Linked DNA regions of Homo sapiens: region 2 is linked to region 1. Evidence: fine-mapped expression QTL. A gene starts in region 1. The other region holds a variant in brackets. All regions are shown on one strand. Distances are between the middles of the regions.

What was found. PIP is the estimated chance that this variant, and not a neighbour inherited with it, causes the effect. A credible set is the group of variants that fine-mapping cannot tell apart.
Region 2: its variant is the best candidate, but not a certain one, in a credible set for the expression of LINC01252 in pancreas (GTEx, PIP 0.51).

Annotation. Positions count from the first base shown.
Region 1 is chr12:11,545,747-11,551,129 of GRCh38, forward strand. LINC01252 (long intergenic non-protein coding RNA 1252) reads left to right here and starts at 2,284. Exons shown (of 8, transcript NR_033890.1): 1 at 2,284-2,614; 2 at 3,844-3,975. The region is part of intron 2 of LOC124902877 (a long non-coding RNA gene); the gene reads right to left. It also overlaps the pseudogene RNU7-60P.
Region 2 is chr12:11,426,461-11,431,843 of GRCh38, forward strand. LOC440084 (a long non-coding RNA gene) reads right to left here. Exons shown (of 5, transcript NR_148969.1): 4 at 5,022-5,102; 5 at 3,750-4,004. Among named protein-coding and RNA genes, the nearest start is that of PRB2, 34 kb to the left of the region's middle. The variant G/A (reference allele first, on the strand shown) is at 2,214.

The sequences.
Region 1 (5,383 bases):
AGAGAGTGGCATTAACAGTGCACAAACTAATGCTTCTTCAAATTTTTCTGGGGTCTGCTGCTGCTACTGCTAAAATCCGCTTGCCTTCGGACACAGTTTCTCAAATGGCTTAAAAGCTTCTCTGCTTTTGATCCCTGCAGCATCACTTTCTACTCCCTCAATCAGAAACCAGAAGCTACCCACCCCCATTTCCTGTGTTCATGATAGTAGAAAGCAACAGAGAACAGTTGGCCCCTGAGCTGCCAGGTTGTGGGCTGGGTAGGGAGGATCCATTGCAGGAGCATTGGAAAGCCTTGAGCACTCTGCCCTGCCTGTCCACACAGCAGCACCTTCACAGCCTTCTAGTAGTTCTGATCAGATTTCTGCCTCTTAAAGCGGCCCCACAGACTAAAAGCCATCATCTGGAATTTGGAGTAAAAGGGCCCACAGGAAATGAAGCACTCTAAGAAAATTCAGCTGGGCAGGTATTTTAAGGTCACTGACTGACTCCAAAGTGAAGGTAGAACCCATATTGACCGCAATTCATCACACTTCTGTAACTTCAGAACTCACTGCTGACTGGTGGAGAAGGTTGCAATTGCATTCAGTCCGAATCTCTGAACATATTATTTAGAAATATTAGCTTATCCAGCTGCCTACGGAGCTTCCCATCTGGGCTTTCAGTTGCTACATTCTCTAAAGCCGTATCTGACCCACACCTTACTAACACTATGTGCTTCTACAGCATTCACCCAGTGTTACAGCTCTTTTAGAATCTGTCTAGCAGGTTTTCCAGTCTTCACTGGAAAGCCCTTGCCCCCAAATATAAAAAAATAATAAGGCATTCACCCCTGAACTTTAGCAGGGCTTCCAATCGCCTTTAAGCACTCATTTAAAAGAAAAGTCTTTTATTCCCTTATAATAGTATTAAATCATTAGCAAATGATTCTCAAAACTATTTTTTGAGTGCTCTCTTCTGTGTGAGAATGTAGGAAATGATGACCAAGTATACGAAGTTGGACATGCCTAGTCCCAGGTGGCCTTTTCCTATTGGCACAGCTGCTGGCATTCACCCGTGCAAGCTTCTAGCTTGCTTGTCTATGTCTGCAGCTTGATTTTACAGGCTGCTCATTGTAAGAAAAGAAAACGATTTGAGGGCTGCTTTTCATTAAAAGGAAAACCTTACTGAGGACTTCCTTACCCTCACTATCTGCCTAAATAATTTCTTCTTAACTCCTATATCACTTATAAGAGGAGAAAGCAGACACACAGGGGGAACTCAGTGTGACAGCACAGGCGGAGCCTGGAGGGATGCCCAGGAATGCCAAAGAGACGCACAGACTGGTTTCTCTCTCACAGCCCCCAGAAAAACCTAACCCTGCCAGTGAGAGGTGACAGCGTGCTGGCAGTCCTCACAGCCCTGCTCGCTCTCGGCGCCTCCTCTGCCTGGGCTCCCACTTTGGCGGCACTTGAGGAGCCCTTTAGCCCACCGCTGCACTGTGGGAGCCCCTTGCTGGGCTGGCCAAGGCCGGAGCCGGCTCCCTCAGCTTGCAGGGAGGTGTGGAGGGAGAGGCGCGGGCGGGAACAGGGGCTGCGCGCGGTGCTTCCGGGCCAGCGCGAGTTCCGGGTGGGCGTGGGCTCGGCGGACCCAGCACTCGGAGCGGCAGGCCGGCCCCACCAGCCCGAGCAGTGAAGGGCTTATCACCTGGGCCAGCAGCTGCTGTGCTCAATTTCTCGCCAGGCTTTAGCTGCCTTCCCGCGGGGCAGGGCTCGGGACCTGCAGCCCGCCATGCCTGAGCCTCCCCCACCTCCGTGGGCTCCTGTGCAGCCGGAGTCTCCCCGACAAGCGCCACCCCCTGCTCCGCGGAGCCCAGTCCCATCGACCACCCAAGGGCTGAGGAGTGCAGGCACACGGCACCGCACTGGCAGGCAGCTCCACCTGCAGCCCCGGTGGGGGATCCACTGGGTGAAGCCAGCTGGGCTCCTGAGTCTGGTGGGGACGTGGAGAACCTTTATGTGTAGCTCAGGGATTGTAAATACACCAATGGGCACTCTGTATCTAGCTCAAGGTTTGTAAACACACCAATCAGCACCCTGTGTCTAGCTCAGGGTTTGTGAATGCACCAATGGACACTCTGTATCTTGCTACTCTGGTGGGGACTTGGAGAACCTTTGTGTGGACACTCGGTATCTAGCTAGTTTGGTGGGGACGTGGAGAACCTTTGTGTCTAGCTCAGGGATTGTAAACGCACCAATCAGCGCCCTGTCAAAACAGACCATTGGCTCTACCAATCAGCAGGATGTGGGTTGGGCCAGATAAGAGAATATAAGCAGGCTGCCCGAGCCAGCAGTGGCAACGCGCTCGGGTCCCCTTCCACACTGTGGAGGCTTTGTCCTTTCGCTCTTTGCAATAACTCTTGCTACTGCTCACTCTTTGGGTTCACACTGCCTTTATGAGCTGTAACACTCACCGCGAAGGTCTGCAGCTTCACTCCTGAAGCCAGCGAGACCACGAACCCACCAGAAGGAAGAAACTCCAAACACATCTGAACATCAGAAGGAACAAACTCCGGACACGCCGCCTTTAAGAACTGTAACACTCACGCGAGGGTCCGCGGCTTCATTCTTGAAGTCGGTGAGACCAAGAACCCACCGATTCCGGACACACCAGCACCCGGATCTCAGACCTCTGGCCTCCGGAACTGTGAGAGAGTAACTTTCTGCTGTTTTAAGATACCCAGCTTGTGGTCATTTATTACAGCAGCCCTAGCAAACGAACCCAGTGTGGTTTGCAACTTCAGTTATAGCATCTACCATCAGCCCAATTCAAAAGACCATTTATTTAATCAGCAACGTTTCCCCCGTCACTCCTTATGGGGCAGTATCCACTGTAGGCTACTGATTCTACTTAGTGCTTTAAGTCAGCGTTGCCAGAATCATACTGAAACACATACCTGGGGCTTCTAGGGCATCTCCTAGTCAGCCTTGTCAAAATCAACAGTTTTGAAAATACGCTCTATGGCAGTCCTGAATTCCACAGGGGTGGAATTCAGAGCCGCTCTCCTCTTGTTTGTCGTATTTTATAAAATGGATATTTAATTCTGTTTCACTATTTGCTTTCATTACTAAAATTTCCCAAAATACATGAAAATAGAGGGTACTCGAAAAACCCAACTTTAAATAAAATAACCGTGAGTATTCTGCCATACTTGTTTCTGTGTTAATATAAGAATTTATTTGAAGAGTTCTGCTATAATGTTTTTAAATACTGGTTTCAATAACTCTCTTCCAATACAGATTACACTTTGTTAGCTCCAATAATTGCTGCATGGTGAATTTAGTCTATTGAAAAGGAAGTGTCAGGTCTGAGTGCCAATTATTGTACTTGACCCAAGGTAACTCTCTTTCAAGGTACTGCGTTGGGTTCCCACTGAATTATTTTACCACATTCGAAATCCTTCATCAGAAATTCAATGTCTTTTATTATGATACATGAAATGATCTAATAAATCTCACTGCACACTGTTACTTTGATTTCTCCAATGAACCACACCTCTCAGAATGCACGCCCTTGTATAGTCCCCTCTCATGGTGACAGCAGGCTTAGCCTTGTGACTAGCTTTGACAATGGGGATATTAGCAAGCATGATGCAAGTGGATTCTGATAAGCTTGATGCTGTATTTATTTGCTTTGGCTGCCATAATAAATGATCACAAACTGGGTATCTTAAAACAGCTCCTTTTTCAGATGTTTCTCCACATTCTTCCAAGGCAAAAAGAAAAGAAAAAGAAATACACACAGACACATACATATATGTTTCAGTTCAATAAGTTTTTGTTGTGTTTTGTTTTGTTTTGTTTCAGACAGAGTCTTGCTCTGTCGCCCAGGCTGGAGTGATGAGGCGCGATCATCACTCCACCTGGGCTCACTGCACCTCCGCCTCCCGGGTTCAAGCGATTCTCCTGCTTCAGCCTCCTGAGCAGCTGGGATTACAGGTGAGTGCCACCATGCCCAGCTAATTTTTGTATTTTTCTTAGTAGAGACAGGGTTTCACCATTGTTCGTCAGGCTGGTCTCGAACTCCTGACCTCATGATCCACCCACCTCGGCCTCCCAAAGTGCTGGGATTACAGGCGTGAGCCACCGCGCCCAGCCTCAATAAGTATTTATTAAGTGTATAACACATGGCAGAAACTGTGCTAGATACTGAAACTATAATGGCAAAAATCAATTCCTGTCCTCTGAATTGGTTACCTAGTAGAGAAGACAGACATGTAAACAAATATAGTGGAGAGTGACATAGGCAATAATAAAACTATGTATAAGAAATCCAATTAGTATGGATAATTAACAACTAATGGTTGGAAAGAAGTGTCAAAAAAAGCTTCTTAGATACAGTGACACCTGAGCAGGATTTCTAAGGGTGCACTGGGGAAAGAGGTTCATAAATCAAGGGAGCATCATACTGAAATGGTAGTGATGGAACATGGTATATGCAGACAACTACAAAAATTCACTTCTACTGATAGTCCAAGGGAGGAAGGCATGAATATGAGAATGGAGGTATGGACAGAGGCCAGGTCAGGGTAAGTTAGAGAGCTTACTTAACCTTGTAGAAAATGACGAGCCATTGGAGACTTTAAAGAGAAATAACATAGTCATATTCTTGTTGTGAAAGATCATCTGGGCTGCTATGTGCAGGACAGATTACCAGGAACAAAACCAGAAGCACCTGTTCAAGCCTGAATTCTAGTCACAGAAGTAAAGCTGAAGAGGAGAAAATGGATGTGAGCAATATCCAAAAGGGAAAATAATAATATACACATAAGGAATAGGGAAGAGAAGAGCAAAAATAATTTCCTATTTCGCCTTCCCTTCTTTTGGAGTTGGAACACTCAAATGGTGTGATGGGTGGCACTGGGGCTAAGGGGACAAGGCTGGCCCAGCTGGGAGATTGCTTACATGCAGGAGGATCAAGTGAATGAGTCAACGTATCAAGGAGACTGGGAATGCAATTTCTCACTGTTGAAGAAAGGAGTTACAAATATGCAAAGGGGAAAATGTGATACTGGATTGGAATTGAAGGCATTAGTCCGAAGTTATGGATTTTAAAGATAGGAATGTGACAGATGATAGATAGGTAGGGATAGACAGGTAAATTGAGAAGTAGAAATGTATGAATGTGTTATATTTCCTAGTCCAGGAGCAATGACACCCCAGTTGCAATGAGCATCCTAGCATTTAGATCTCAGTTTCTAAATACCTTTTTCCACTAAAAGGAACCAGGGCTGGGGCAGGGAAAGAACAAGATGACCCTGGAACTCTATTGTACTGAAAGTAAGGAAGCCCTCAGATAATTATGAGGACATGTCTAAAGGACACAGGAGTGGCTCACGCCTGTAAT
Region 2 (5,383 bases), 120 kb before region 1:
TTTCACTTGATTGGCTTGTTTTCAGAGTAGAATTTCACTCATGCCCTCTTTAGTAACGCCAAGTTGTCCCCAAGTCCATTGCCTCTCTGGTTCAGTTTTTCTAAATAAACCTACTCCCTCTTGCTGGAACAAAGGGGGATGTGAACCCCAACAGTTTCCTGCCACCTGTCTCACCATCACCTTCCCTCCTACAACATAATCCTCAGAGGTCCTGCTGTCCGCAGCCCTGCAGTCTTACAAGGGTGCTATGAGACCAATTAACATACATTTATTTGGTGCCACTTTCCAATAACAAGAACTTCACAGGTGCTTGAATACAACCCTCTTCCTTTCCACTATGCCAGGAACTATGGCTCTGCCTGTACTTAGTCTTCATATATTGTTGCTTATATTTGCCCTATAAGATTTATCAAAGATGAAATTTGCTTTCTTGTTTCCTGATATTATTGTGTGGGGATGGTCTTTGAGAAGAAAGAGTTAAGAAATGCCTTTACTACTGAAACTATGTCACCCTCAGTTATAATTTAGGAAAGCAATTTGCCAATATGCTAAGGAATCTAACAAAAAGTCTGACAGAAGCTTATAAAACAAGTCTTCTGTTTCCATCATTCCACTTAAACAGCTGACATCACGGTACCAGTGACCTCCAGCTTGCTAAAATCAATGGACTTTTTCAGTCTTCATCTTAACTTTCTCAGCAGTGATGGGCATCGTTTGTAATCTGTCTTACTTAAAATATTCTCTTCCTTTGATTCCATGATACTTATATGCATTTGTTTTACGTTGAACTCTCTGGTTGCTCCACTCATTACTTCTTTCATTTATCAAATATATATTGAGTGCCTTCTGTATGCCAGGAATTTTGCTAGGAGTTTAGAATGCAATGATGAATACAAAATCATGGTCCCCACCATTCAGGAGCTGACACCTTGTGTGTCCTTTGCAGATGCATCTGTTTCCATCTAGCTGTGAAATTATGAAATTCCTCTATTTTTTGTCTCTTGCCTCTTGTCACTATATATAATATCATCTCCCTAGAAAAAGTCATCCTTGCCAACAGCTTTAATTATTATCTATGTACCAAAGGCACAAAGTTAAATCTCTTGCCAAGACTCCTACTCTGAGCTTCACGCCTTTATCTATTTGACATCCCCATTTGAATATTTTAAAGTTGCCACTCAGTATTTCCAAAACAAAACTAGATCTGGTAATCCCAACTCTAGTGAACATTGTCCAACCATTCATGCAACATAAAATCTATAGCTTTGACTGTGTCTCATTCCACATAAAAAGTCTACCACCAGTTTCTCTCTCCTGTTCTAATTTTCTAAATATGTCTCATCTCCATCCACTTGTCTCTATCTCTACTGTCCGATATGGTAGCTGCAAGTCACATGTAGCTGCTTACATTTAATTAATTAAAATTAAAAATGTTAAAAATATAAAATATAAATAAAATATAAAATTTTACATTTAAAAGCAGCCATATCTGTGGAATAGTAGATATACAACACATGTATCATCACAGAAATTTATATTAGATAGCACTGCCTTAGACTTTAAGCTAAAATGATGGTTATAAGATACATAACTTATATAAAAGATGTCATATATATATGTAATGTGAAACCTACAGTATCAGTAAAAAAATAAATAACTGTACAAACGCACTCAAAAATACTACATATAAGCCAAAATGGAATTCAAAACAAAATATTCAAGTAACACACAGGAAGGTAGCACATAGAAAACAGAGAAAAAACACAAGATAAGCACAAAACCTAGAGTAAAATGACAGACTTATTACTCAATATATTAATAATTATGTTAAATGTAAGTGATGTAAACTAAATGCTTGAAAATTAAGAGGTTTTGGGATTACAGAAACAGACTAGCCTGTACCATTATCAAAATTTACTCAATAATTTATATTGGTATATAAACTATACAAATTTTATATTAAATATTATTAATATTTTATACAAATACTGTGTAAAACATTTGCATATCATAAAAACCCATGCAAAGCTCTCAGCTCTGTCCCTGCCTGGCACAGAGTAGCCTTCAATGAGAGCTACTATTGTGAGGACAGCCACTGGGTGGGACTCCTTGTCACTTGCTTGCTCCAGGTGTCAACTTCCCACACCAGTGCCTCAGAGTTTTGCCCCTCCTTATACCTGCACTATTCCTAAGTGGCCTCATCTAAGCCCATG[G/A]TTTCAACTATCACTTATACCAGGGTCAGCTACTTGCATGGCACAAGTGCCACAACTCTCCTGGTTAGGCACCCAAATCATTATTCCCTGGGCAGCTGCTTTTAATTGATCTGTTAGAACTTGAAATAAAACATCTTTTTATCCTGAGTAGATACCAATGAGTGCCTATGATGAGTCCACTAGCCTTCTTCCCTGGGTACATGTGTAAGTTGTCCTAAGGGTCCATTACAAAACTCCATGCTGAAATCTTCTGAAAATTAAAAATAAAATGGGAAGAGGAAAAGAAAAACTAGTGACTAGTGGGAGAGAGATCGTATTTTAGTTTTAAAAGAGATCGGGGAGGGCTTGGAACTACTTTCTATTTAGAAGCCTGAGACAAGGGGCTTGATGGAACCAAGATAAAGAATCCCAAAATCTGATGTGCTCTGGTGCGAGTTCATCATAAGAGTGAAGGACTTATTGCATATTATATAAAAACCACCAGTGAACATAGAATATTTCTACCTGAGACAAGCTAATAAATTAATAACTCTGAAAGTTAATGATTGCAAACATCGGTGTATTTATTTGAGGATATATATTAAAGAACAAAAAAAAACTTTCAAATCGAATTGGTATAACTGCCTCATTTTCTAAGAGGAAGGTGGAGTTCATAAGTGACCACAATGAGAGACTACAATTAGAAAGCATTCCTCCCCACTCCCGAGTCCACATCCTACTCTAAAAATTCATCACTCCCAATTTATAAATGCAGGCAAATTCAAACAAAATTTCTGCCATTTTAGTTTTTCATTTACATGTTCGCATATACGTACTGCAAAGTATGAATATGTGCGATACCAACTCATACCCTTTTGCAAAAATCTAGTGTATAAACCTAAAAAAAAAAAAGCTGTGTCTACCCACTACTTGAACCAAACCAGTTCTAGAGGATTAAGATGTCTACCTTGTGTGTGCTATGAAGAATAATGGCCTCTCAAAGACACACAACTAATTCCCAGAACCACTGAATATGTTGAATTATATGGGAAGAGGAATTACATTTGCCAATCAACTGACTTTAACATAGAGAAATTATCCTGGATTATCCAGATGGACCCAATGTAATTAATTAAAAGGTCCTTAAATGTGGAAGATGGAGGCAGACGAGTCAGTACCAGACAATGTGATGTGACGGGAGGCTCATCTGGCCATTGCTGGAAAGAGGTCAAGGAATATGAATGAAAAAATGGAATTCTTCTCTAAAGCTTCTAGAATGCAGCTCAGCATTGATACAAGGATCTAATCCTGTGAGACTCATTTCAGACATGTGAACCACAAAACTAAGTTAATAAATTCGTGCTCATTTAAGCCACTAAGTTTGTGGTAATCTATTATCACAGCAATAGAAAAACTAACTTACTTCCCACAAACTCATTTCATGTTTTCCTGTGGCCCCTGTAAAGTATTGATGCCTGTTTATAAAGTATCAGAGAGAAATAAATTTATCATAGGTCTTAATACAATTAAGCAATTCTTCTCTCATAAAATAAGAACCACTCTCAAAATTCAATTATTTATTGAGCCCGTACTCGATGAGACACAGCTAAGAAGTGCCCCTTCCCCATCCCTGAACAATTCCCCCTACCCAGCCAGGATCAATGCCTCAGCTGGGCACATCCTATGTTTTTCTAGTCTTCTACAATAGATCTCCTATAGTGTAGTGGTAGGCATGCTCAAAAGCATAGAATCTTCTTAGAAAGTAGTGGATAGCAGTGATCATCACAGCTAATGGAGAATTTGCTTCATTTTCTAAATTTGAAAACAAAAACAAACAAAAAACGGGAGTTATCAAGAGAAACAAGAGAACCAGGGCTCAAAAGATCAGCCCCATCTTTTCACCCTTTCCCTGGGCATGAAACTTAATTTCTTTAGGGTGTAATTTTTTATCCTCCCTCCCTTGTCTTCTCCCTAATGTGAGATATTTACACACTGTCCAGGCATCCATTTTACTCCATGTTCCCTTCAAAACTCTTTTGAAGGAAAGAGTCCTTGTTAATCTTATCCCTATTTAGTTACTGAAAATCCAAATAACTGGGCTCTCTTTCCTCCAGGGAGGAAAGAGATTGTCTTTAACCTCCATGTTACATTTTGTAGTTGATCTCAGCATCTGGGAAGTTTTAAGTTTGGAATTTTTACCAGTGAATTTAAACTAGCATTGAAAATGGTATCAAATCATCAGTAAAGTATTAAAGGTAAAAGAGGAGAATCTTACAAAACTTCACTGAGGTGAACTCCAAGAGTCTTCTCTGAAGGTGCTGGGCTGGTCTTCAATTAAGTAAAGAAATGTTTCTTATTCATGGTCAGTAAGACTCATTCACCACATGTCTACCATTCTGTTATGAGCCTCCAATAGTGTTAGTAAATGTAGGATTCCACTGAGTCTGTGGCACCAAAACCCTCTTTCTCCTAATCTTCAAGGTACTCCACCAGGACTCAAATCCTACTATGGAAATGGAATGCAAATGCATTCCATGAGAAGGACTGGGTTAAAGGCATGGCCTTCACTCACACTTAGAAGTTCCTAAGTGTAGCAGGTGAACTAGACCTATCCTCATGTGCTAGCAAACATGACGCCCAGGTGAGAAAGGCATATAATGGGGGCAGAGTACCAGAGTCCACTTCTTGAGTCTGTCCTCGAATCCTTCTCAAGAAAAATCTATGGTAGGAATCCAGTCTGCTGGAGGAAAGCAGGCCTTCCCTCAGGAATGCAAAAGATGGGAGCCCATCCCCTGCCCAGGCCTCCTGCGAAGCCAGACCCTCACTCACGGAAAGCCTGGGTGTTCTCCAGGTACACATCTGTGGGTGACTCCAGGTCCATGGTGGATTCTGGTAGGTCAGTGGTTGATTCTACAGGAGCCAAAAAGAAAAGAACAGCGCAAGTACTTTCCAGTGAGAATTTTCACTCTTAGGTAGATCTTTTTCTGGGGAAACATGGAACATAATGTGGCAGACCACATCAAACGTGGTCTCACCACAAGCCTCTCTTCTGCCACCCGCTGGAAAGTCCAGTGGACTAACTGCTGCCTGGGAGGGTGCTCAAAGCCCCCCACCCACCCTCTTTTCAAGGGTTCGGTTTAGGAAGGAGCATTCAATATTGTGCCTCTAAATGTGTATTGGTCAGACTGGAA